7 linked regions of the Homo sapiens genome follow. The protein of the gene in region 1 purifies or fractionates together with the protein of each later gene. This does not show direct contact. Each region holds a gene or a part of one and is shown in the gene's direction. Other genes may lie near its edges.

Region 1 (3,500 bases):
CTTTGTTGGTTTGATATCTTTTATTGGTTTTTCTTGAGTTAGACAAATAAAATAAGGTAATGTGGCAGTATATATATTGCAAAGTAGAAGTAAAAGTCATCTAGTCACCTCCCAGGGGTGTGGGAAGTATCATGATATCTGAACTTACTTTTAGAAAAAAAATGTATATGCATGTAGAGAAAAAGAAGGCAGATGTCAAAAATTAGGGAATTGAGGTGAAGGGTATTTGGGAGTTCCTTGTACTATTATTTCAACAACTTTTTTAGGTTGATTTTTTTCAAAAACCCGTCTCTCGTAATCCTACCCTCAGAAAGAATTAGATGTGGATCCTGAGAGGTCACAGGTGTGCTAGGCATTTTGCATACATTTTAAATTTAGTTCTCAGCTCTCGAGGAGGAAACAAAGGTGATGGCAGGTGACCAGGGTCACACAACTTGGCTGAGTAGTGGAACCAGAATTTGGATGTGTTACTTCAGACCAGACCCTAGGGGAAAAAAAAAGAATTTGGACTTAGACCTCTGACCCCAATGCCTTTATTCCTTTATGGCCTTGTGTATCTCAAATAGCAAACCTTTCCCATGGGAAGGAATGACTGGCTTCCTCTGTCATCCTCTAGGTCCTTGATACTTTATGAGCCTGTGCTTAGTGAAAGCAGATGGGAGATAGCCCAGGCGGGGCTGCCATCCTGGGACTTGCAGGAAAACTAAGAAGGGTATGGAGGGAATCGTTGCCTCCCATTCAGGCCCTGAGGTCCCATTTCCTGGGACAGCCGAGACTCTCAGGAGGCAGCCCTGACCGTCACCCCTCCGCCCCGCCTGTCCTCCAGGAACTGAAGCTGCCCACCTTCCGAGCCCACTCCCCACTCCTGAAGAGCCGCCGGTTCTTCGTGGACATCCTGACCCTGCTGAGCAGCCACTGCCAGCTCTGCCCTGCAGCCCGGCACCTGGCCGTCTACCTGCTGGACCACTTCATGGATCGCTACAACGTCACCACCTCCAAGCAGCTCTACACCGTGGCCGTCTCCTGCCTCCTGCTTGCAAGTAAGCGAAAACCTACGTCTTCCTCCGCGCTTGTGCGGTCTCCTCCCGCTCAGTGCGCCTGGCTGCTTCCAAATCACTTTACATTTTGACGATCTTTGCACGTCTTATATGTTCATCCTTCACTGAGCGTTTTTTAGCATCAACATTTTTAGATGCAACATTTTTTAGCATCTTTAATGTACCAGACCAAGTGATAAGGATGTTAGCAGCTTGTCTCAATCCACACAGTGGCCCTAGGAGGCAGATACTCTTAGTATACCCCACTTTACAGAGGCACAGAGAGGTGACGAAGCCAGTTTTGGGCTGCCCGGGTAGTATATGGCAGACAAGATTTGAGCCCAGAACTGCCTGGTGCCAGAACCTGTGCCCTCAACCTCCTGTCTCCTGCTTCCTGGTATGGGGGATATGAACGTGCTGGGAGGGGAACCCTAGCAACCACTGTTCATAAGGTGTTTTGAAATGTGACTGCTTGATTTGGACCTAAGCAGGACCCATTGTGTGGTCACCAGGCCTGGGCACAGCCCTCTTGGGGTTTGCACCTTCCAAACAGGCCTCACTAAAAACACAGCGTAGCTTTGACCATCTGTCTGTCTGCCTTGGTAGAGATTACTGTGTTAATTCGCTGCTACTCGGATGATCTCCTTAAAACACAGTTCTGCCATGCCACCCTTCCACTTAACATCATCCCATGGTTTACTGGCAGTCTTAGGTTAAAGACCAACCCTTGAGTTCCTGCCTCTTTGCCCTGTGCCTTTCTCCTCATCACTTCCTGGGTTCCAGCCACACTGGCCAAGCCCCCTCTTGTCATAGAGCTTTGCACATGCTGTTCCCTCTACCTGGATTGCTTCTCCCTCCCTCCCGCTGCCCACCTGGTTCTGGGTAAACATCACCGAGGCTCTAGATCCCTGTGAAAACCTTCCCCCACTGCCCTCAGCAGGTGAGGTCTCCCAAGTATGCAGACCCTCAGCGTCATGTGCTTTGAATGAACAACCACCACCCCCCATGGATAGCAAGTTTCAGGGATGGAAAGGAGCTTGGCACATAGTAAGACCTCAAAAATAATCTGTGTAATCAATGAAACTAATGGAGCTAATGGTTCCTTGAGAGCCAGGCCTCTATACTTCTATAGTTGCCCTAATGCAGAGGAATGGAATGCCCCAGAGGCCTCAGGCTCAAAGTGGCCAGGTACAATTAGGACATTTCTTTGACATCTGGTATTTTATCCTTGACAGTCAGATTTTACATTCTCCTCTGAGATATGTTTGTGTCCTATTTCATTATTCATTTCCCCTCCCTGCCCCTCCATCCTTCATCCTGCTTGGTGCTGCAGGACTATGGCACCCACTTTCTCCTGTAGCTTTGTCTGCTTTTGGCAGGCTTCCATAAACCCCATGGGCACGATCACCCAGTTCCGGAAGCACAGATTTAGAGTTTTCAGAATTCTGTCTCGTTTTCCACGCTGGCACCTTTTACCTGCTGTTGTTCGTGATCCCATTGGCTGCTTTAGGCTCATAGCCCCACATTTGGTGATTTTTCTCTACCTTTGGCCAACTGGATTCCCTTGTTACACATGCGAGCCAGTCTTGCTGGGTGTCCAGCCTGTCTCAGCACCCCAAATCAACGTGCAGCCCCCTTTCGTCTGCGGGGCTTGTGAAACATCTCCGGCTGTGGAGGGCACACTGGGCATCGTATTTCAAGCAGCACAGGAGAAATTTGCGCCACGGCCTTTGGCCTGCTGCTGTCTGTGATCTGTGGGCTGCATCGCGGCCCGCTGGGGGCAGGGGACTTATATTTCCATGGGGCCATGGAAGCTCTCCCCGAGTGTCTGTCTGGGGAGCTGGGATGTGAGGCACACACTGGAGACTCCTTTGTGCTGCTGCCACCTTGGCGGAGAGAGGGGACGTTTCAGACAGAGAGGCAGACGCCCCCACCCACGTGTCTGAGGGCAGCACAGCCTCGGGCAGCAGGAACAGATTTTTCAGGACACCTGCCATATGCTGCAGAGACCAGAGGGAAGAAAAGTTTCCATGACAGCCTGAAATCCTATTCTTCCCTCCTCCCCTCTCCCCAGGCCATTGTGGGCCACAAGGGGGATCCCCTTGCCTCGGGAAGTTTGGAGATCTGCTAATTTGGTACCAAATTATTCTGAGATAAGAAGAGCTGGGGTTCTTGCCCCCCCACCTGTCAATCTCAGGTTTTTAAATCTGCTTCCAGATAGACAGGAAGGCTGGGCGCGGTGGCTCACACCTATAATCCCAACACCTTGGGAGGCAGAGGCAGGTGGATCACCTGAGGTCAGGAGTTTGAGATCAGCCCAGCCAACATGATGAAACCTTGTCTCTCCTAAAAATACAAAAATATTAGCCAGGCCAGTCGGATAACCTGAGGTCAGAAGTTTGAGACCAGCCTGACTAACATGGAGAAACCCCATCTCTACTAAAAATACAAAATTAGCTGGGC
Region 2 (3,500 bases), on another chromosome or scaffold:
TTTTTATTTTGCTTCTTTTTTTTTTTTTTGAGACAGAGTTTTGCTCTTGTTGCCTGGGCTGGAGGGCAGTGGCACGATCTTGCCTCACTGCAACCTCTGCCTTCCGATTCAAGCGATTCTTTGCCTCAGCCTCCTGAGTAAGTGGGATTACAGGTGCCCGCCACCATGCCTGGCTTAAGTTTTGTATTTTCAGTAGACACAGTGTTTTGCCATGTTGGCCAGGCTGGTCTCGAACTCCTGATGTCAGGTGATCCACTTGCCTCGGCCTCCCAAAGTGCTGGGATTACAGGTGTGAGGCACTGCTCCCAGCCGAGCCTAAGTCTCTTTCTACTTCCCTGCATTCCCCAAAGAGATCCATTATAAACAGTTTAGCTTTTTAGACTTGTTTGCGAATATATACATATAAAGCAATTTTGCCTTTTTTTTTTTGAGATAGGGTCTCACTGTATTGCCTAGGCTGGAGTGCAGTGGTGCCGTCACGGCTCACTGAAACCTCTGCCTCCCAGGTTCAAGCGATTCTTGTGCCTTAGCCTCCCGTGTAGCTGGGATCACAGGCGTGTGCCACCATGGCCCAGCTAATTTTTGTAATTTTTAGTAGAGACAGAGTTTTGACACCTTGCCCAAGCTGGTCTTGAACTCCTGAGCCTAAGTGATCTTCCTGTCTTGGCCTCCCAAAGTGTTGGGATTACAGGCATGAGCCACCGCGCCCCGTGTGTTTTATAGAGATGGGGTTTCGCCATGTTGGCCAGGCTTGTCTCGACCTCCTGGGTTCAAGCAGTCCACCTGCCTCGGCTTCCCAAAGTGCTGGATTACAGGCATGAGCCACTGTACCTGGTCTGTATTTACTTTTGAGAGGAATTTAATAGAAATGACTTAGGAATGCAAATGGGATAATGGTTTACTGCTTATGGAATGGCCTTAGGAGGACATTTGTGGAGAGTTCTTACACCCGGCAGGGATTAGACTGGATTAGAATTTCACATCAAAATAGTCTGGCAAACAAAGTCTAGCTTTTTCTGTGTGGAGTCCTGGAGTGAGTGGGTGCAAGAGGGGGCTGAGGCTTCACTTCCGTCTTGGAGGAGGTTTGTTGTTGGGAGCAGTCTATCTTGACTGACCCTGGTGCAGTCACTGAGAAACTGAGGTATTTTCCAAAACCAAGTTGATTATTTGAGGGGAAGTGTTTGCAGAGAACTTTCAGGAGGCTTTGGGTATGGTGGGAAAAACACTGCACTCAGAACTGGGGGATTGGAGTTCCTGGGGCTAGCCCTTCCCCTCACTGGGTCCTCAGGTTTCCTTTACCCTTAGATATGGGATTGGGCTAGCTGGTTTCTAGGGCCCTTTCCAGTGGGAAGAGCTTGAGCTGCTGTTTTGCCTGAAGTGTAGTCCTTGCCTTCCAGGAGCTTGCAGTCTGGTTTAATGAGAGTGTTCATTTCAGCTCCTTCCGTCCCCTTGCAGTGAAAGGATATCATCTGCTGAGCATGAGAAGGCGAATGCTAAGAAATGGCAGCAATCAGCCCCTCTTACAGTGCCACTTCACCACCCGGAGAGAACCTTTGCCTTAGCCACAGTCACTTTCCCTTTGACTGGTAGAACCACCACTGATTTATAATTTGCCAAATGCTTCATGTACGAAAGTGCCCTTGGAACAGCCCTTTCAATTCTGTTTTTTTTTTCCCAGGTTGATTCCAAAGATAGTTCTCATAACTCCACAAACTCTGAATTTGCAGCTGAAGCTGAGGGTCAGAATGATACAATTGAGGAACCCAACAAGGTCCAGAAAAGGAAGAGGGATAGACTTCGAGACCAGGGCTCCACAATGATCTACCTGAAGGCTATCCAGGGCATCCTGGGGAAATCGATGCCAAAAAGGAAGGGAGAGGCTGCCACTCGGGCAAAACCAAGCGCAGCAGAGCATCCCAGCCATGGAGAAGGACCAGCCAGGAGTGAAGGACCAGCCAAGACTGCAGAAGGAGCAGCCAGGAGTGTCACAGTCACTGCTGCTCAGAAGGAGAAAGACGCAACCCCAGAGGTCAGCATGGAGGAGGATAAGACAGTGCCAGAGAGGAGCAGCTTCTATGACAGGAGAGTAGTTATAGACCCTCAAGAGAAACCCAGTGAGGAGCCCCTTGGGGACCGAAGGACTGTCATTGACAAATGCTCTCCACCCCTAGAGTTCTTGGATGACTCTGACTCTCATTTAGAAATCCAAAAGGTGAGTAAAGCTTGTACCAGGCATCTGACTTTTTAGTTCTGTTGATGAAATGTGTTCCATCTTTCTAGTTTGATCCTAAGTGTTACTAATTAAAAATAGTACTTTACTTAACCAGGCCTCCAGGGAACAAACTGATGGTTTTCTTCTAACATACTTTTCAGATTTTCAGAGTTATTAATAAACCTAAACTAAGTGCTTTTTTTTTTTTTTGAAGGATTTATATGTTAGGATATGGGTTTAGCTGCTGTGTAAAAGGCCAAAATCACAGTGGCTTAAACAGAATATAAGTTTGGCTTAAGAAGGATGGCTCCATCATGTCAGAGATACTGGTACCTTTTGTCTTGATTCTCTATCACCCCTCAACACAGTGTCCATCTCTTGGTGTGAAATGGATACTCTGATAGGACTCAGGGTTTGTTATCTGGGCATTCTGGCCAGTGGGAAGGGGAGAAGAGGAGAGTGCATTCCTTCCCTGTTAAGAGCTTGGCTCAAGAGTTGCACATGTTGTATCTGCTGTTGACAAGAGCGGGGAAACCCGGCTGACACCTGGCTGCAAGGGAGTCTGGAAAATCAGCCTTTATCTAGGCAGACTTGTACCTGGATAACCAGAGAAGAAGGGAAGGATGTCATTGGACGGAAACTAGTGATTTTTAACATAGCTTATAATTGAGGGGAAGCATTCCTCCATCTTTTTCTTTTTTTTTTTTTTTTTGTTGTTGGGACAGAGTCTTGCTCTGTTGCCCAGGCTGGAGTGCGATGGTGCAATCTTGGCTCACTGCAACCTCCACCTCCTGGGTTCAAGCAATTCTCCTGCCTCAGCCTCCTGAGTAGCTGGGATTACAGGTGTGCGCCACCAAACCGGCTAATTTTTGTATTTTTAGTAGATATGGGATTTCTCCATGTTGGCCAGGCTGGTCTCGAACTCCTGACCTCGTGATCCACCTGCCTTGGCCTCCCAAAGTGCCGGGATTACAGGCATGAGCCACTGTGCCAGGCCACATTCCTCCATCTTACTCGTCTCCACCCATCCTTTACTACTGCTCTGCAGGCAGCTTCTCTCATCTTTAGCTCTTTCTTCTAGTACTTACCCCATGTTTCTAAATAATCTTTACTGTTGATCAGTTTTTCAGTTTTAGATGTCTGAGGACTTCTTGCTTGGGCGATGAGAATTTAGTTCTCTATACCTCCTTCAGAAGCACCCACACCCAGGGACACATTAGCTTCCCCTTTCTGCAGCCTCCCTGTGTGGCTTGAATACCTTTTGGGTTAAGTCTGTGTAAGATTTGTT
Region 3 (3,500 bases), on another chromosome or scaffold:
AGGCAGGAGAATCACTTGAACTCGGGAGGTGGAGGTTGCAGTGAGCTGAGATCGTGCCATTGCACTCCAGCCTGGGCAACAAGAGCGAAACTCTGTCTCAAAAAAAAAAAAAAAAAAAAAAAAAACTTTTGGAGGTCTTGATTCTTGATGTGGTGGCAGTGGATATGTGGATATTGACATAACTTGCCCATCCCTCCACCTCCCACAAAAACTTTTGAGGTAACCACATGGGTTTAGACCTCCAGGTAAGACTGGGTAAATGTAAGGGAAAGGTATAAAATATGGTCTTCACTCACAAGAAATTTGTAATTTAATTATATTTAATTCTGCAAAGTAAGTGCAAAAAGGAGATATCAGATGGCATTTATGGAAGACATAATTGGTTGTAACTGAACCAGTGCCAAGGGGCTTCTTTGTTTTTTCTTTTTTCTTTTCTTTTTTTTTTTGAGATGGAGTCACTGTTGTCACCCAGGGTGGAGTGCGATGGTGCCATCTCGGCTCACTGCAACCTCAGCCTCCCAGGGTCAAGCGATTCTTTTGCCTCAGCCTCCCAAGTAGCTGGGATTACAGGTGCAAACTGCCATGCCTGGCTATTTTTTTGTATTTTAGTAGAGACGGGGTTTCACCGTGTCGCCCAGGGTGGTCTCAAACTTCTGAGCTCCAGCAATCCACCCTCTTTGGCCTCCCAAAGTGCTAGGATTACAGGCGTGAGCCACCACACCCGGCCCTGTTTTTTATTTATTTATTTATTTTTGTCCTTATTTATGTTGAAGGACTAGGGACTTCTTACAAGTGTGCTTGATTTGGTAGATTCCTCTGGTGCTGTATCAAAAAAGAACAAATTTAAAAACCAAGTATACTTGGTTTAGAAAGGTTTCATGGGGTAAGGATTACATGTTTGAAAGGAAAAGGCAACCTAGTGAAACAGTAAAAATATGCATCAAGGAAGAGATTCAAAAGAAAGTTCAGGCCGGGCGCGGTGGCTCACGGCTGTAATCCCAGCACTCTGGGAGGCCGAGGTGGGCAGATCACCTGAGGTCAGGAGTTTGAGACCAGCCTGGTCGACATGGTGAAACCCGTCTACCAAAAATACAAAAATTAGCCAGGCGTGGTGCCGGACACCTGTAATCCCGGCTACTCGGGATGCTGAGGCAGGAGAATCGCTTGAACCCAGGAGGCAGAGGTTGCAGTGAGCCGAGATTGTACCACTGCACTCCAGCCTGGGTGACAGAGTGAGACTCCATCTTAAAAAAAACAAAAGGAAGTTCAGGAAGTGGTTTGTCATCCAGGTTGCCCTGGACACTTTTGCATCCCATTGGGTCTTTGGGATTTTCTTTGTAGTATATCTTTCACGTTTTCTATTTTTTATCATATGAGATGATTATAGTCACCTGTATAAATGTTTCCTTATTAAGTAGTCACTATGTGCAAGGTGCTCATATATTTATTTTGTTTATGTCTATTATCTTTAGGTCAGATGTCATGTAATCCTTCCTTTGGTGGCATCGGAAAGGGACATTTAATGAGGGAAGTAGATGCCTTGGATGGCCTGTGTTCTCGCATCTGTGACCAGTCTGGTGTACATTATAAAGTATTAAACCGGCGTAAGGGACCAGCTGTGTGGGGTCTGAGAGCTCAGATTGATAGGAAACTCTATAAACAGAACATGCAGGTAAGAATAGGGCATGAGCACAGGAAAGATTATAGTGATTGTTTAATTACCATGTTTCAACTGGCATTTTCTTTTGACAGAAAGAAATCTTGAATACACCACTGCTTACTGTTCAGGAGGGAGCTGTAGAAGATCTTATTCTTACAGAACCAGAGCCTGAACACACTGGGAAATGCCGTGTCAGTGGGGTTGTTTTGGGTACGTATTGGTTATAGATGGTGTATGATAACAGCATATCAAATTCCATGTGAGAAATTTATTTTAGAGCAAAGTGTGGAGATATGTTGCTTATTCAAGGAACTTGTTGCATTTTCTCTACCTGGATGAGGAAAACTATATAAATAAATATGTTTCTCTTTTCATCTTGGCATTTATGATGCTCAGTCAAATTCTAGGCTCATCAGTACCATGTTCCATCTTAGTGTAGAACTTTGTAATCTGCATATTTATGTCTCCCTCTCTCCCCATCTTTCTATTGTAATTTCTGTTTTTTCTGGTTCTGACTTTAATTTTTTAAAAAATTCATATTTTAACAGCTTATATATATTTTTATGTAAAAGAGTTATGTATGTTTTTTATCAAAATAACTCATGCATATAATTTTTTCTTAAAATATTAAAAGGGTCTGGGCATGGTGGCTCATGCCCGTAATCCTAGCACTTTGGGAGGCCGAGGTAGGTGGATTGCTTGAGCCCCAGAGTTTGAGACCAGCCTCGGCAAGATGGCAAAACCTCATGTCTACAAAAAAATACAAAAATTAGCCGGTGTGGTAGCAGGTGCCTGTAGTTTCAGCTACTCAATAAGCTGAAGTGGGAGGATTGCTTGAGCCCAGGAGGTTGAGACTTCAGTGAGCTGTGATTATGCCACTGCACTCCAGCCTGGGCAACAGAGTGAGACCCTGTGTCAAAAAAAAATAAAAAATAAGTTTGGGTGTAGTGGCTCACACCTGTAATCCCAACACTTTGGGAGGCCAAGGCAGGCAGATCACCTGAGGTTGGGAGTTCAAGACCAGCCTGAACAACATGGAGAAACACATCTCTACTAAAAATACAAAATTAGCCAGGTGTGGTGGCGCATGCTTGAAATCCCAGCTACTCAGGAGGCTGAGGCCAGAGAATCACTTGAACCCAGGAGGCGGAGGTTGTGGTGAGCCGAGATCACACCATTGCTCTCCAGCCTGGGCAACAAGAGCGAAACTCTGTCTCAAAATAAATAAATAAATAAATAAATAAATATAAAAGAAATTTAGAAATTTATGTGGGAAAACAACCATCTCCTTCCCTGGAGACAGACACTTCAGCTTTTTTAGTTGTCACTTATTGTATATACTTCCATATTTCTGAATAGCAGGCTTATCTTTTTACTTCCTAATTTACAGTTCTAGACATTATCTATTAACTTTTTTTGTTTGTTTGTTTTTGTTTTTGTTTTTGAGACGGAGTCTCACTCTGTGCCAGGCTGGAATGCAGTGGTGCGATATCGGCTCACCACAACCTGAGCCTCCCGGGTTCAAGCGATTCTCCTGCCTCAGCCTCCTGAGTAGCTGGGACTACAGGCACGTACCACCATGCCCAGCTAATTTTTGTATTTTTAGTAGAGATGGGGTTTCACCACGTTGGCCAGGATGGTCTTGTTCTCCTGACCTTGTGATCCACCCGCCTCGCCCTCCCAGAGTGCTGGGATTACAGCTGTGAGCCACCGCACCCAGCCATCTATTAACATTTTTTGAGACAGAGTCTGGCTCTGTTGCCTAGGCTGGAGTGCAGTGGTACCATCTTGGCTCACTGCAACGTTCCCCTCCCAGGTTCAAGCAATTCTCCTGCCTCAG
Region 4 (3,500 bases), on another chromosome or scaffold:
ACTGGTTAGCTATATGGAATTAAATAAATTCCTATTTATTGGTGTGTGTTTTAAGATGCAACAGACTAGAACATGTTGAAGGCTGTTGGGTGGATGTTAGCGGAAAGGAGGAGAGGGAGATCAAGGTACAGTAGAAAAAGTGAGAAAAAAATGCGGACAGGGCTGGGATGCAGAACCCTGGGAGAGCAATTTGCCTCTAAAGGAAGGTCTAGGGTAGTAGACCAACTCAATTCTTATAAAGTAAGATTCTAGAGATATCAAAGATTTTTTTAAGTTATAAAACATACAATTATACAAAAAAAAATGTCATAGAGACCCATAAATTCACTGCCAAGTTAAACAGATGTTAATGTTTTGCCTGATTTGTTTCAGATCTCTGGTTTAAAAAAAGGAATAAAATGCTTGTGCTAATAGCTAAAGCCCACCTTCATATTTAGTCACTCTCCCTCCCGCCAGAAACAACCACAACCCTCACTATGTTTGTTTTGTATTTTTATTACTGATATATATATTACAGACAATAGATAGTGTTTTGTGTTTTAAAATTATACATCAGGAGTATCAACTTGTTTTTTTCACTGATCAGTGTGTTTGCCATTCAATGGCATGACATGGAACTCTGGTTGAGTGATTTTTTTTTTTTTTTTTTTTTTTTTTTTTTTGAGACAGAGTCTCGCTCTGTCACCCAGGCTGGAATACAGTAGTGCAATCTAGGCTCACTGCAACCTCGGCCTCCTGGGTTCAAGCGATTCTGCTGCCTCAGCCTCCTGAGTAGCTGGGACTATAGGTGCCCACCACCACGCCCAGTTAATTTTTATATTTTTAGTAGGGAAGGGGTTTCACCATGTTGGCCAGGCTGGTCTTGAACTCCTGACCTCAAGTGATCCACCCACCTTGGCCTCCCAAAGTGCTGGGATTACAGGTGTGAGCCACCGTGCCTGGCCTGGTTGAGTGATTTTAATGTCTGTATTGTGTTTCATTGCTTACTTACCCATTCCTCTGTTGATAAACAGTTGGGTTTCAACTCTAATGCCCTTATACACAGTGCTGCAATGTAGGTCTTATTGTGAGTGTACAAGAATTTCTCCAGGGAAATACCTAGAAAGTAGAATCACTGGGTTACAGGAGTGTATGTTATTGGTGAATTCAATTTTTTGTTTGTTTTGTTTTGTTTTGTTTTTTGAGATAGAGTTTCACTCTTGTTGCCCAGGCTGGAGTGCAATGGCGTGATCTTGGCTCACTGCAACCTCCGCCTCCCAGGATCAAGCGATTGTCCTGCCTCAGCCTCCTGAGTAGCTGGGACTACAGGCGCCTGCCACCATGCCCAGCTAATTTTTGTATTTTTAGTGGAGACGGGGTTTCACCATGTTGGCCAGGCTGGTCTTGAACTCCTTACATTGTGATCCGTCCACCTTGGCCTCCCAAAGTGCTGGGATTACAGGTGTGAGCCACCATGCCTGGCCCTCAATTTTTTTAATGATTGAAAAAATATATAACCTAAAAGTTATCATTCTAACAGTCTTTAAGTGTACAATTCAGTGGAAACATTCAGTGTTCTATCACCATCACTACTATTTCCAAAACTTTTTTCATCATCCCAAACAAAAATAACTCCTATTTCTCCCTCTCCCAGACTCTGTTCTACTTTCTGTCTGTATGAGTTTCCTGTTCTAGGTACTTCACATGAGTGAAATCATACAAGATTTGTCCTTTTGTGTCTGGCTTATTTCACTTAGCATGGTGTTTTCAAGGTTCATCCATGTTGTAGCATATATCAGAATTTTATTTCTTTTTATGGCTTAATCATGTTCCATTGTCTGTATATACATTTTGTTTACCTATTTATCAATGGATGGACAAATAGGTTTTCATCTTTTGGTTACTGTGAATAATGCTGCGATGAACATTGGTGTACAAGTATCTGTTTGAGTCCTGTTTTCAATTCTTTTGGGTCTGTACCTAGGAGTAGAATGTGCCTTATGGTAATTCTAGGTTTAGTTTTTTGAGGAACTGCCAAACTGTTTTCCATAGCAGTTGCATCATTTTACATTCCTAGTAGCAGTGCACAGGGTTCCAGTTTCTCCACACTACCTCCATCACTTATTTTCCTTTGTTTTCTTTTTCTTTTTTTTCAGTAATAGCCATCTTAATGGGTGTGAAGTAGTATCTCATAGTGGTTTTTGATTTGCATTTACCTAGTGATTAATGATGTTGAACATCTTTTCATATGCTTGGTGACCATTTGTATATCTTTTTTGGAGAAATGTCTATTCAAATCCTCTGCCCATTTTTGAATTGAGTTGGTTTTTGTTGGTGAGTTGTGAGAGTTCTTTATGTAATAAATTCTGAATATTAATCCCTTATCAGATCTATGATTTGTAAGTATTTTCTCCCATCCTGTGGTTGCCTTTTTACTATCTTTTGTTTTGCTTTGTTTTTTGGAGACAGAGTTTCACTCTTGTTGCCCAGGCTGGAGTGTAATGGCGCGATCTCAGCTCACTGCAACCTCCGCCTCCCAGGTTCAAGCGATTCTCCTGCATCAGCAGTGTCCTTTGGTGCACAAAAGCTTTTAATTTTGATTTCCAAGAGTTTTATAGTTTTAGCTCTTAAATTTAGGTCTTTGATTCATTTGAGGTTAATTTTTTTTTCTTAGAGATGGGGGTCTCGTTATGTTGCCCAGGCTAGCCTCAAACTCCTGGGCTCAGGTAAGCTTCCTACTTCAGCTTCTGAGTAGGTGGGATTATAGGGGTGTGCCATTGTGCCCAGCTGCTGATTTTGAGTTAATTTTTGTATGTGGTGTAATTTTTGCATATGGTCCAACTTCATTGTTTTGAATATGGATATCCAGTTTTCCTGGCATCGTTTGTTGAAAAGACTGTCCTTTCCCCATGGAATATTCTTGGTATCCTTACCAAAAATCAGTTGACCATATATGTGAGGGTTTATTTCTGGCCTTTCTATACTATTCCATTGGTAAATATGTCTGTCTTTTTGCCAGTATCACACTGTTTTGATTATAGTAGCTTTGTATTAAGATTTAAGTCAGGAAATGTGAGTCCTCTAACTTTGTTCTTTTTTTAATATTGTTATGGATATTTGGGATCCCTGGACATTCCATGTGAATTTTAAGATTTTTTTTTTTCTATAAAAAACACCATTGGATGCCTTTCATTTCTTTTTCATTCCTAATCACTCTAAAACTTCCAGTATTATGTTGAATAGAAATGAAAAGAATGGCTGTCCTTGTCTTGTTCCTAATCTTAAGGGAGAAGCTTTCAATGTTTCACCATTGAGTATGACGTTAACTGTGGGTTTTTCTTATATGGACTTTATCAATAACTGAAGACATTCCCTCCTATTCCTAGTTGATTGTTTTTTTACATGAAAAGGTTATTGAATTTATCAAGTCCATTTTCTGCATCAGTTGAGATGATCATTTGGGTTTTTTCCCCTTCATTCTATTAATGTATATGACATTGATTTACCTATGTTGAACCATC
Region 5 (3,500 bases), on another chromosome or scaffold:
AGGTATACCAGCATACTCTATGTGGGCTTCTGCTTTTGTCAGCAAAATAACTTTTCATTTAGTAAGTATCAAAGGGAAATAAAAACTTAGCATTTTGTATAATAGTGTGTTAATCTGTAGTGAATCAGGTAAAAACAACAAATCTGAGTTATGTAGCACTGTGGGGCCTGGAGGCTAAAAAAAAAAAAAGTGTGTTTTGTCAAGAGTTTAACAAACAATTATTCTGTATTTCTTTTTTTCTGTTTTTTCTTTTTCTTTTCTTTTCTTTTTTTTTTTTTTTTGAGACAGGGTCTCATGCTGTCTCTCAGGCTAGAGTGCAGTGGTGCAATCACGGCTCACAGAAGCCTCTACCTCCCAGGCTCAGGTGATCCTCCCACATCAGCCTCCCAAGTAACTGGGACTACAGGTGCGAGCCACCACACCTGGCCAATTTTTGCACTTTTTTTAAGACAGGGTTACGCCATGTTGCCCAGGCTGGTCTCAAACTCCTGGGCACAAGCCATCCACCCACCTTGGCCTCCCAAGGTGCTAGGATTACAGGTGTGAGCCACCATGCCTGGCCTCGTGAGCTTAATTTAGTCTGTTGAGAATTGTATATGCTTTCCTTAACAATGAAGTAATTTGTTCTAATGAAGTGGGAAATCCCTTTGCATCTTTTTAAATACAGCTTTCTTTCACACTCTATATAGTTTGGAGAAAATGTTAGGAATTCTTGAAGGTAGTAATCACTATTACACTACTTAAGATTGGAAGTTATGGCTGGGCATGGTGGCTCACACCTATAATCACAACACTTTGGGCGGCCAAGGCGGGAGGATCACTTGAGCCCAGGAGTTCAAGACCAGCCTGGGCAACATGGCAAAACCCCATCTCTACAAAAAAATACAAAAATTAGCCCAGCGTGGTGGCACATGCAGATAGTCCCAGCTACTTGGGAGGCTGAGGTGGTAGAATCTCTTGAGCCTGGGAGGTTGAAGATGCAGTGAGCCACTGCATTCCAGCCTGGGTGACAGAGCAACACCCTGTCTCAAATAAATAAATAGGAAATGTTCTGTATTTTTTAGTAGGATACTTGTAAAGTGGGGTGTGATAGTCTCAGGATTGCAAAATAAGTGGAAAGTCAGTAGTCACCACAAATGGGAAACACAGTGGAACCAGCAATCTATTTCAAAAGAATTATTTGGGGATAATAAACTATGGATTTAGCTTCTCTTCAAGCTTTTGGCATTTTCAAGGCAGTTATCATTGAATTTGGGTAGTTTTTTCCCTGATATTCAAATTAGAAAATTGAAAAGCAGAATAATCACGAAGTAGTAAATGCCGTAACTTGGGCAACAGCCTTTTGGAGGGGACTTTTACAACTTTTAGAAGTGCAAAGGAGTGAATATTTCCCTTTGGTTTATCATTCAGTAAGTCAGCTTTTGAAATCCTTTTCTTGCCAACCTTTGTGAGTAGAGAAAACATACAAATGTGTCCATTCCAAAAGGGAGTGGTTGCTGGTTAAATATGTAAAAGTAGTAACTTTAGATAAATGTGTGGTATATACAAGGTTAAATCAGGAAAAGTTATCTTATAAATAGTGGTGGCCTCTTAGAGAACATTCCGCTTTGTTTCTGAGCTTTTGAAAACTGAGAATACATTTGAAATAGTAAGGAATTTATGTACTCCTTAAATTTGTTAAGGAATGAACTCTGCACATAGCTTTCTTGTTGCTTGAAATTATAGTTTCCAGGCGTAATTTCATAGGTCCTATGTACCTCAAATAGAAGGTTTGAAATACCTTACTCAGCAAGTATATTACCTCATAGTTTAATGTTCAGTGTTAGTTTTTTCTTACCCCTCTACCTCCTGAAGAATTGTTTTCGCTCTTGTGTTCCCTTAATGCAGTGATTCTCAAGATGTGGTTTCTGCCCAGTCCCTCCACATGGGAAATATAGCACTGTTTGTTTGTTTTTTTAAGTTTTTATTGCTTCATAGTTGTTCATACTTAGGTATGCCTAAGGGCTACTTATTAATAACCTACCAAGTGAATTACTAAGGATTACTAAAACATGGTATTCATAACCTAAAACTAGAACAATATTGGAGTTTACTGTGGTCTCTTAATACTTTTTTCGCCCAGGAAGTCTGTCCTGGGAAACCTGGCACCAATACAAGCTTCTCACATGTCATATGCAGAATGGGGATTCCTGCAGTATTCAGGAAGTATGCTTAGTTTGGGGTGCATCATCTGAATTGTCTCAAAATAATGTCAGTTTTCATCATGATTCCTCTTTTTTTATTAGAATTTTTATTTAACTTCATCTTTATCAATTTAATTTATAGGTTTTTTTGTTTACTTTTCATTGTGTGGGCAGGAATATTTATACCAACAATATTTTGGCTTATAATGTAAGACATAAATGTGTTACAATGCAAAGATAGATTCTCTAGTCCCCTTTTGCTATTGCTGATTTGTATAGTCACCTAAAAACTTGCTCACACAGAGGTACTTCAGTGTTACCAAAGTTCCTTTTACACTGGAAAACTGATGGAACAAGAGGCCTCCTTCTAGTAGATGCTTTATCTGTAGTCTTTGGGTAGGGAGCTAAGTTTGTCCCTAACCCCAGCTCCCTTTGTCAGGAGCATGAGGGACCTTTTTCCGTCTTTCCTCACTGCCTGCCATATAAGCATTGGATATATAGTTATTGAATGGTGTTGTCTCAGTTTTTCAAAATGGTAAATATTTTGGAGAGACTTTATGTTACAGATTTTAGAATAAATTCACCTAAGATATTTATTGAATACATATTAGGGTCTAATAAGTATCCAAATGAGTATGCAGTATGAGTGTTTTAGACATCATTTAAAGTAGACATCATTAAGGAAAATGTTGATATTCATGCTGCTTATATATTTTATTTGCTTTTCTTAAGAGCAGAGAGTTTTCTGTAATAGAAAAATCCTTTTCCTTCAGATTTGTGTATATTTGAATAACACATGATCTCCTATTATTTGGCCTCCTGGGGGGAAAACCACAAGTACTACGGAATATTACATTTGTTTTTCTTCCCTGTACTGCAACCGTCATAAGCATTTACCTCAATTCTTCCTTAGTATTTTTTGGGAGTCCAAGGCAAATTTTTCAATCCTTAAGATTTCAGGCAGGGATTATTTACTTCCCCTTTTTTACTATTATTTGCTTCCGGAAATTCCTTACTCTATCCTAGGCCTAAATTTTATTTTTTAGTAAATTATTTGAATGCTGAAAGGATTTGTCTTTTCTCCTTTGTACCATTTTAGGTCAGGACTATATTCTGTAATTCTTTCTGACCACAGATGCACTGCTACTAGGTTAAAAAAGCTCTCAACTTTTTAGAGGAAGGTTTTTCCAGAGACTCTTTTTTTTTTTTTTTTTTTTAAGGTCTCACTCTGTCTCCTAGGCTGAAGTGCAGTGGTGCGATCATGGTTTACTGCAGCCTCGACCTCCCCAGCTCAGGCGATCCTCCCACCCCTCACTC
Region 6 (3,500 bases), on another chromosome or scaffold:
TCCCAGGACAGCAACCCTGAGATGTATCCTGGGTGGATGGGGACCCCAGGCCTAGCAAATATGTCACAAACATCTCTCTTCCTCCTACAGACATACCATCTCTACCGACGAAGAAAAGAGGTGAGGGGGGCAGGGGAGGCGTGCGGCCTCCTGGGTTTGAGGGAGGAGGGGGCTGAGGGCCTGGACTCCTGGGTCTGAGGGAGGAGGAGGCTGGGGGGCCTGGACGCCTGGGTCTGAGGGAGGAGGGGGCTGGGGGGCCTAGACGCCTGGGTCTGAGGGAGGAGGGGGCTGGGGGGCCTGGACGCCTGGGTCTGAGGGAGGAGGGGGCTGGGGGGCCTGGACGCCTGGGTCTGAGGGAGGAGGGGGCTGGGGTCCTGGACGCCTGGGTCTGAGGGAGGAGGGGGCTGGGGGCCTGGACGCCTGGGTCTGAGGGAGGAGGGGGCTGGGGGCCTGGACTCCTGGGTCTGAGGGAGGAGGAGGCTGGGGGCCTGGACTCCTGGGTCTGAGGGAGGAAGGGGCTGGGGGGCCTGGACGTCTGGGTCTGAGGGAGGAGGGGGCTGGGGGGCCTGGACGCCTGGGTCTGAGGGAGGAGGGGGCTGGGGGGTCTGGACTCCTGGGTCTGAGGGAGGAGGGGGCTGGGGGCCTGGACTCCTGGGTCTGAGGGAGGAAGGGGCTGGGGGCCTGGACTCCTGGGTCTGAGGGAGGAGGGGGCTGGGGGCCTGGACTCCTGGGTCTGAGGGAGGAGGGGGCTGGGGGCCTGGACTCCTGGGTCTGAGGGAGGAGGAGCCTGGGGCCTGGACACTTGGGTCCTGGGCATTGGGTAACAGCCCTTGCCCCTGTCCTTTTGAACCCTCTCATCTCTCCTCAGAGTCTCACAGGAAGTAGTTGTGGGGTCAGGATGGGAAGGCCGGGCCTCTGCCTCTAGGGGGAGAGAGAGAGAGTGTGTGTGTGAGTGTGTGTGTGTGTGTGTGTGTGTGTGTGTGTCTTTGTGTGTGTTGAGCCCTCACTGTCCCTTCCCTACAGTGCTGCCGTGGTCAACGCCATTGGCCTGTACATGCGCCACCTTGGGGTGCGGACCAAGAGTGGAGACAAGAAGTCGGGGAGGAACTTCTTCCGGAAAAAGGTGCTTCCCTCAGTGCCCCGTCCTGACCCTTTCCTCTCCAGAGACGCCCTGGGAGCCTCATGACTCTGGATACCTAGCGTCAAATTCTGCTTTGTTGTTGTCTCAGAGATGCTTAGCCTGGTCTTCCTCCCCGCCCTCTCACAGGTGATGGGGAACCGGCGGTCGGACGAGCCTGCCAAGACCAAGAAGGGGCTGAGCAGCATCCTGGATGCCGCCCGCTGGAACCGGGGAGAGCCCCAGGGTAAGGCGGCTCTGGCCTCTGCCCTCCCCTGTCTTCCCCAGCTGCTCCCACTCACTGTCTCATTCTCTCTCGTTTCAGTTCCAGATTTTCGACACCTCAAAGCAGAGGTTGATGGTAATGTACCTGTAGCCATAGCATCCATACTGGGGGCCTGTGTGGGAGAGGCTAGGACCTGGACGCCTGGGTCTGAGGGAGGAGGGGCTGGGACCTGGACGCCTGGTTCTGAGGGAGGAGGGGATGGGGGCCTGGACACCTGGGTCTGAGGGAGGAGGGGCTGGGGGAGCTCCTGGGTCTGAGGGAGGAAGGGCTGGGCCTGGACCCCTGGGTCTGAGGGAGGAGGGACTGGGCCTGGACCCCTGGCTCTGAGGGAGGAGGGGCTGGGGGAGCTCCTGGGTCTGAGGGAGGGAGGCCTGGGGCCTGGACCCCTGGGTCCGAGGTAGGAGGGATTGGGCCTGGACCCCTGGGTCTGAGGGAGGAGCGGCTCAGACTCGGACTCTTAGGTCTGAGGAGGAAGGGCTGGGCCTAGACCCCTGGGTCTGAGGGAGGAGGGGCTGGGGGAGTTCCTGGGTCTGAGGGAGGAAGGCCTGGGGCCTGGACCTCTGGGTCTGAGGGAGGAGGGGCTGGGGGCCTGGACTCCTGTGTCTGAGGGAGGAGGGGTTGAGGGCTCCTGGGTCTGAGGGAGGAAGGGGCTCCTTGTCATGGTGGGGAAGGGCCTGAGCACAGCCTCTTGCATCCCCTGGCGGTTGTGGATTTGAGTTACTGTTCTCTTATCTCCCTCTTTCTCCCTCACTGTCTCCCCAGCCGAGAAGCCAGGTGCTACAGACCGGAAGGGAGGCGTGGGGATGCCCTCTCGGGACCGGAATATCGGGGCTCCTGGGCAGGACACCCCTGGAGTCTCTCTGCACCCTCTGTCCCTGGACAGCCCAGACCGGGAACCAGGTGAGAGTTTCCTGGGCCAGGGCTCCATGAGGCCCGGCGATCCAGGGTGGGGGTGCTGCCTGCCCCCTTGGCACCCCCAGATAGAAGCCATTCCCCAGCAACACCTCCCCTTTGCTCTCAGCATCCACTTCTCCCTGCTCCTGGTCACCACTGTCATTCATAACTTTCCCCTTCCCTCAGTTTGCCCTTTCCACAGCTTTGCTCCCAGGCTCTGACCTCTCTGCTGGTGCTGCGTCTCCCACCCCCTTGGACTACGTTTTCCATCAACCCTTCCTTTTCCAGAACCTTCCCTGAGTACATGACCAGTCCACCCTCTGAGCTGCATTGCTGGCCCCCTAGGTGGGGAGCCCGCCAGCCCCATGAGCTTCATCCCTCACCATCCTTACACTGCTGTGGCCTCAGGCCCTTGGATCTCTGCATGGCCAGGCCAGGGCTCACACACCAGCTCTGCTGACTGCTTGTGTTTATTTAGTATCTTGGATATGACTCCCCTTTCTTAGCCTCCGTTTGCTTTTCTCTAAAGGAGTATGAGAGGGTGGGGAGGATGAATGGACGTGGAGGCAGCACAGAATCCAGGGCCCTCCCGACCTCAGGGGGCTGCAGTCTGGTTGGGTGGGAGAGATGTTTGTGACCTATTTGCTAGGCCTGGGGTCCCCATCCACCCAGGACACACAGGGGCACCCACTTCTGTTGCATCTTCATGCTCCTGCCCCTAGTGGCCATGTTCTGAGAGGTCTTAACATCTGTCCGTCCCGTGCTGAAGTACAGAGCAGCCATGTGGTGTCTGCCAGGCACTGGGTAGCTTTAGCCCCCGCAATTCCAGGCCCCCAGAGTGTGGGTCTCGTGGCCGCAGAGGCCTTCCAGCCAGCCCTGCTCCCTCCACCCCACAGGTGCTGACGCCCCCCTGGAGCTGGGGGACTCATCCCCGCAGGGCCCAATGAGCCTGGAGTCCTTGGCGCCCCCAGAGAGTACCGACGAGGGGGCCGAAACCGAGAGGTGCCCAGGCTGGGGTGCAGGGGCGGGAGGTGTGGCTTACTGGGCGCTGGTGGGTGGGTGCAGGGTCACCGCTGCCATCTGTGCCTGCCTGTCCCAGGCTCTTGCTCCCCATGCTCCTCTGCTGCTCTCTGGGTCTGGCCATTCCTCTCCCTTCTTCTTTCCTTTTCTCATCTCCCTCCTGCTTCCTCATTGCCCCCCTTT
Region 7 (4,204 bases), on another chromosome or scaffold:
GTAGTCCCAGCTACTTGAGAGGCTGAGGTTCCCACCTCAGGAGGCCGAGGCTGCGGTGAGCTGAGATCGCACCACTGCACTCCAGCCTGGGCGACAGAGTGAGACCCTGTCCCAAAAATGCATAAATAGTAAAACTAGTGAGAGTGAATGAGAGATGGGATATGTAAAGGGAGTGGGAGGAGTTAAGGAGTAACTCCTCGGTTTCTGGCTTGTGTAAGAATAACTTCTGTGATTGGTGGGGAAAATCCACCAGAGTTCTGTTAAGTGTTGTTCATTTCCTGTCCCCCGTTAGGGGTTACCCCTTCCATCTTAAGCAGGATATTCTAGGATCTCTCAGTCTCACAGCCTTGCCCACCAATAACCAGCAGGTGAGCCCCCTCTCCCCAGACCTCTAGATCTGCAAAAGGCAACCTGGAGGCAAGGAAATCCCCAGCTGTGAGTAGCCATTCAATTCTGGTGCTGTGGTAACTGAGTTCAAAAACAATGAGTCTTGTTACCTACCCGTAAAATGAAAGACACCTCATCAGACACCTCACTGGATTGTGAGGCTCCAAGGAGCACACATATTGTTAGGCTCAGTTCGATTCCCTCCAGCCCTCTCCGCCCGTTTGAAGGCAGTTCCTTATCCCGGAGACAACGTACAGATGTTCTCTCTTTCCCTCTTTATTTTTTTTAAGACAGGGTCTCTGTTGCCCAGGCTGGAGTGCAGTGGCGCGACCACAGCTCACTACAGCCTCAACCTCCTGGGCTCAACACGATCCTCCTGCCTCAGCCTCCAGAGCGGCTGGGACTACAAGCGCGCACCACTGCACAGGGATTATTATTATTATTTTATTATTTTGTAGAGAAACGGGTGGGAGTGGTCTCGCTATGTTGCCCAGGCTGGTCTCAAACTCAGCTCAAGAGATCCTCCCGCCTCGGCGTCCCAAAGTGTTGGGATTACAGGCGCCTGCCACCGCGCCCGGACGCAGATATTTTCTATGGGCATCTGGAATGGCGTCCCCAAAGCTTGGCGCCGTGCTATGGTCAAGCCGGGTCGGGGGCTCGGGCCAGCCTTCAACACCGTTGGCAGCAATCGGAACGATCAACTGTACCCTCAGTACCGCGACCTCGCCCGGTCCTGCCAATGGCCGGCCCCTAGCCGGTCCTGAGGCCTCGCGAGAGCTCCCGTGGCTACGCCTTCCCCGGCCTCGGAACGGCCCCATCCTTCCTCTTTCCCCGCCTCCCAGCGGCGCTCCACTCTCGGATTGGCTGATTGATCCGAGTCAGTTTTTTTCCTCGCCAGAAAGCGGTTCGACAATTGGTCCTTCTTTTGGCCCCTCCTGCGATGCCCGCGGATTGGACGGCTGAGTCTGGCTACGCGGGCCTCCGCGGGAGCGCGACCGGGCCAATCAAGAGCTTGGCGTATTTTACAAACTGAGAAAGTAGCTCCAGCAGCACCCGAGAGGGTCAGGAGAAAAGCGGAGGAAGCTGGGTAGGCCCTGAGGGGCCTCGGTAAGGTAAGGCACGGGGGTCTTGAAGGGAACGAAGGCTGCTGGGTTCATAGGGAGGAGGGCAGTTTGGGGCCCGAGGGCGAAAGAGTAGGCTCGGGGTGTCTGGAGATAGCACCCATAAGAGCGGTCTTGCAGGCGCCGGGGGCTTGTGGGCGCGTGGATTAGGGCGGAGGTATCAGGGATGGCAGGACAGGTGCCCCGAGAACTGGTTGATCTTTGATCTTAGATTCTGCCTGCCTTCTTCCCCGTCTCAATTGTAGCCATCATGACCACCCGGCAAGCCACGAAGGATCCCCTCCTCCGGGGTGTATCTCCTACCCCTAGCAAGATTCCGGTACGCTCTCAGAAACGCACGCCTTTCCCCACTGTTACATCGTGCGCCGTGGACCAGGAGAACCAAGATCCAAGGGTAAGAGGGGCCTAATGGGGGAAGACAGTAGTCACACCAGTAATGCACCCCAACACTAAACCTCACCTTTTTGTCCCCGCTCCCTCCCCTAGAGATGGGTGCAGAAACCACCGCTCAATATTCAACGCCCCCTCGTTGATTCAGCAGGCCCCAGGCCGAAAGCCAGGCACCAGGCAGAGACATCACAAAGATTGGTGGGGATCAGTCAGCCTCGGAACCCCTTGGAAGAGCTCAGGCCTAGCCCTAGGGGTCAAAATGTGGGGCCTGGGCCCCCTGCCCAGACAGGTACCTGTTGGAGCCATGGTAACACGGCCTCCATGGCTGAGTAGGGGACTAGGAAGGGTAAAAGTGGGGTTTTGGGGTTTTGCACTCACTCCTGCTGTCTCCTACTTACTGTGATAGTCCTGGTCCCAGCTCCTGGAAAGCTCTTTGCTCTTAGAAGATCTCCCTTTCCTCCAGCAAAATGTCATCTCGCCAGGTGCCATGGCTTGTACCTGTAATCACAGCTACTCAGGAGGCTGAAGCAGGAGGATCACTGGAGGCCAGGAGTTGGAGACCAGCCTGGATGACAGAGGGAGATCCCATCTCTTTAAAAAATAAATAAATAAATAAATAATAAATATCACTTCTTCTGAAGCCTTTTCCAGTTCCCCATGTCACAATCAGTTGCTCTGTGTTCTCCTAATACTTTGCAGCACTTCTTTTATAACATGTATATACCTTGGCTTGAGTCTGTTACCTGTCTATAGTTTGATGATAGCCTCTTGAGGATAGGGGCTTTGTCTTATTCTTATGGGACCCCAGTGCTTAGAATAGTGTCTTATGTAACATTCTATGAACATTTGGTGACCAGGTGTGGTGGCTCACGCCTGTAATTCCAACACTCCTCCGAGGCAGGAGGATCATTTGAGCTCAGGAGTTTGAGACCAGCCTAGGCAACATAGTGAGACCCCATCTCTTTTTCTCTTTTTTTTTTTCTTTTCTTTTTTTTTTGTGGAGACAGAGTCTTACTCTATCCCTCAGGCTAGAGTACAGTGGCATGATCTCGGCTCACTGCAACATCCACCTCCCAGGTTCAAGCGATTCTCATGCCTCACCCCGAGTACCTGGGATTACCAGCACCTGCCACCACACCCAGCTAATTTTTGTTTTCTTTCTTTTTTTTTTTTTTTTTTTTGAGACAGAGTCTCACTCTGTCACTAAGCTGGAGTGCAGTGGCACGATCTTGGCTCATTGCAACCTCCACCTCCCAGGTTCAAGTGATTCTCCAGCCTCAGCCTCCTGAGTAGCTGGTACTACAGGCGCGCGCCACCAGGTCCAGCTAATTTTTTTTTGTTTTTGTTTTTTGTAGAGATGGGGTTTTACCATGTTGGCCAGGCTGGTCTCAAACTCCTGACCTCAGGTGATCCACCTGCCTCAGCCTCCCAAAGTGCTGGGATTACAGGAGTGAGCTACCGCACCCAGCCAATTTTTGTATTTTTTTAGTGGAGACAGGGTTTTGCTATGTTGGCCGGGTTGGTCTCAAACTCCTGACCACAGGTGATCCACCCGCCTCGGCCTCCCAAAGTGCTGGGATTACAGGCATGAGCCACTGCACCCAGCCATCTATTTCTTAAAAAAAAAAAAAAAAATAAGCCAAATTCAATTGAATGAGTCTCTTGCTCACCTTGTACCTCAAAGTTCCTATGCTAGGGGCCCTATCCCCCTCAGCCTTCCCCCTTCCTTTTCCTTCTCCTCTTTCCTTGCAGAGGCTCCAGGGACCATAGAGTTTGTGGCTGACCCTGCAGCCCTGGCCACCATCCTGTCAGGTGAGGGTGTGAAGAGCTGTCACCTGGGGCGCCAGCCTAGTCTGGCTAAAAGAGTACTGGTTCGAGGAAGTCAGGGAGGCACCACCCAGAGGGTCCAGGTAATGAAACAGGATGTGAGGAGACCAGGCTAGGGGGCACTGAGGGGGGCATCCTGAGCAGTGCTGACAGCCTCTGTTGGTGTCCCAGGGTGTTCGGGCCTCTGCATATTTGGCCCCCAGAACCCCCACCCACCGACTGGACCCTGCCAGGGCTTCCTGCTTCTCTAGGCTGGAGGGACCAGGACCTCGAGGCCGGACATTGTGCCCCCAGAGGCTACAGGCTCTGGTGAGTGCCCTTGAGGGGCTGATAGTCGGTGCTTCTGGGAGCTCCTTCCAGGGACAAAGCTGGGCTCTGGGAGAAGAGGTACCTCATGATGAGGCAAGGGATCCTACTGGGGGAGATGGGGTTGGTGGTGAGGCCTGAGGGTTTGGGGTCCACCTCTGATTCCGTTTTCA

The links.
Region 2: the proteins of CCNJL (region 1) and TATDN2 purify together in Homo sapiens (affinity purification with mass spectrometry; 2 studies listed by BioGRID and IntAct, with this or other methods). This does not show direct contact.
Region 3: the proteins of CCNJL (region 1) and MTO1 purify together in Homo sapiens (affinity purification with mass spectrometry; 3 studies listed by BioGRID and IntAct, with this or other methods). This does not show direct contact.
Region 4: the proteins of CCNJL (region 1) and OS9 purify together in Homo sapiens (affinity purification with mass spectrometry; one large-scale study listed by BioGRID and IntAct). This does not show direct contact.
Region 5: the proteins of CCNJL (region 1) and RSPRY1 purify together in Homo sapiens (affinity purification with mass spectrometry; 2 studies listed by BioGRID and IntAct, with this or other methods). This does not show direct contact.
Region 6: the proteins of CCNJL (region 1) and ARHGEF1 purify together in Homo sapiens (affinity purification with mass spectrometry; 2 studies listed by BioGRID and IntAct, with this or other methods). This does not show direct contact.
Region 7: the proteins of CCNJL (region 1) and TROAP purify together in Homo sapiens (affinity purification with mass spectrometry; 3 studies listed by BioGRID and IntAct, with this or other methods). This does not show direct contact.

Annotation. Positions count from the first base shown.
Region 1 is NC_000005.10:160,278,065-160,281,564, reverse strand, and holds part of CCNJL (cyclin-J-like protein), read left to right. Parts: exon of another isoform or gene 1-655; coding exon of another isoform or gene 656-712; intron 713-826; coding exon 827-1,040; intron 1,041-3,500.
Region 2 is NC_000003.12:10,258,459-10,261,958, forward strand, and holds part of TATDN2 (3'-5' RNA nuclease TATDN2), read left to right. Parts: intron 1-1,678; coding exon 1,679-2,212; intron 2,213-3,500. UniProt on the Homo sapiens protein: Mg(2+)-dependent 3'RNA exonuclease and endonuclease that resolves R-loops via specific degradation of R-loop RNA stucture. Shows no activity against D-loop and minimal activity against the RNA strand of an RNA-DNA hybrid duplex oligomer.
Region 3 is NC_000006.12:73,464,737-73,468,236, forward strand, and holds part of MTO1 (5-taurinomethyluridine-[tRNA] synthase subunit MTO1, mitochondrial), read left to right. Parts: intron 1-1,472; coding exon 1,473-1,672; intron 1,673-1,752; coding exon 1,753-1,870; intron 1,871-3,500. UniProt on the Homo sapiens protein: Component of the GTPBP3-MTO1 complex that catalyzes the 5-taurinomethyluridine (taum(5)U) modification at the 34th wobble position (U34) of mitochondrial tRNAs (mt-tRNAs), which plays a role in mt-tRNA decoding and mitochondrial translation.
Region 4 is NC_000012.12:57,700,632-57,704,131, forward strand, and holds part of OS9 (protein OS-9 isoform 1 precursor), read left to right. Parts: intron 1-3,500. UniProt on the Homo sapiens protein: Lectin component of the HRD1 complex, which functions in endoplasmic reticulum (ER) quality control and ER-associated degradation (ERAD).
Region 5 is NC_000016.10:57,189,329-57,192,828, forward strand, and holds part of RSPRY1 (RING finger and SPRY domain-containing protein 1 isoform 1 precursor), read left to right. Parts: intron 1-3,500.
Region 6 is NC_000019.10:41,893,184-41,896,683, forward strand, and holds part of ARHGEF1 (rho guanine nucleotide exchange factor 1), read left to right. Parts: intron 1-90; coding exon 91-120; intron 121-1,023; coding exon 1,024-1,123; intron 1,124-1,267; coding exon 1,268-1,364; intron 1,365-1,442; coding exon 1,443-1,478; intron 1,479-2,165; coding exon 2,166-2,303; intron 2,304-3,193; coding exon 3,194-3,299; intron 3,300-3,500. UniProt on the Homo sapiens protein: Seems to play a role in the regulation of RhoA GTPase by guanine nucleotide-binding alpha-12 (GNA12) and alpha-13 (GNA13) subunits. Acts as a GTPase-activating protein (GAP) for GNA12 and GNA13, and as guanine nucleotide exchange factor (GEF) for RhoA GTPase.
Region 7 is NC_000012.12:49,321,851-49,326,054, forward strand, and holds the start of TROAP (tastin), read left to right. Parts: upstream 1-1,404; 5' UTR 1,405-1,499; intron 1,500-1,753; 5' UTR 1,754-1,758; coding exon 1,759-1,902; intron 1,903-1,994; coding exon 1,995-2,187; intron 2,188-2,296; exon of another isoform or gene 2,297-2,304; coding exon of another isoform or gene 2,305-2,424; exon of another isoform or gene 2,425-2,538; intron 2,539-2,641; exon of another isoform or gene 2,642-2,726; intron 2,727-3,650; coding exon 3,651-3,808; intron 3,809-3,896; coding exon 3,897-4,034; intron 4,035-4,204. UniProt on the Homo sapiens protein: Could be involved with bystin and trophinin in a cell adhesion molecule complex that mediates an initial attachment of the blastocyst to uterine epithelial cells at the time of the embryo implantation.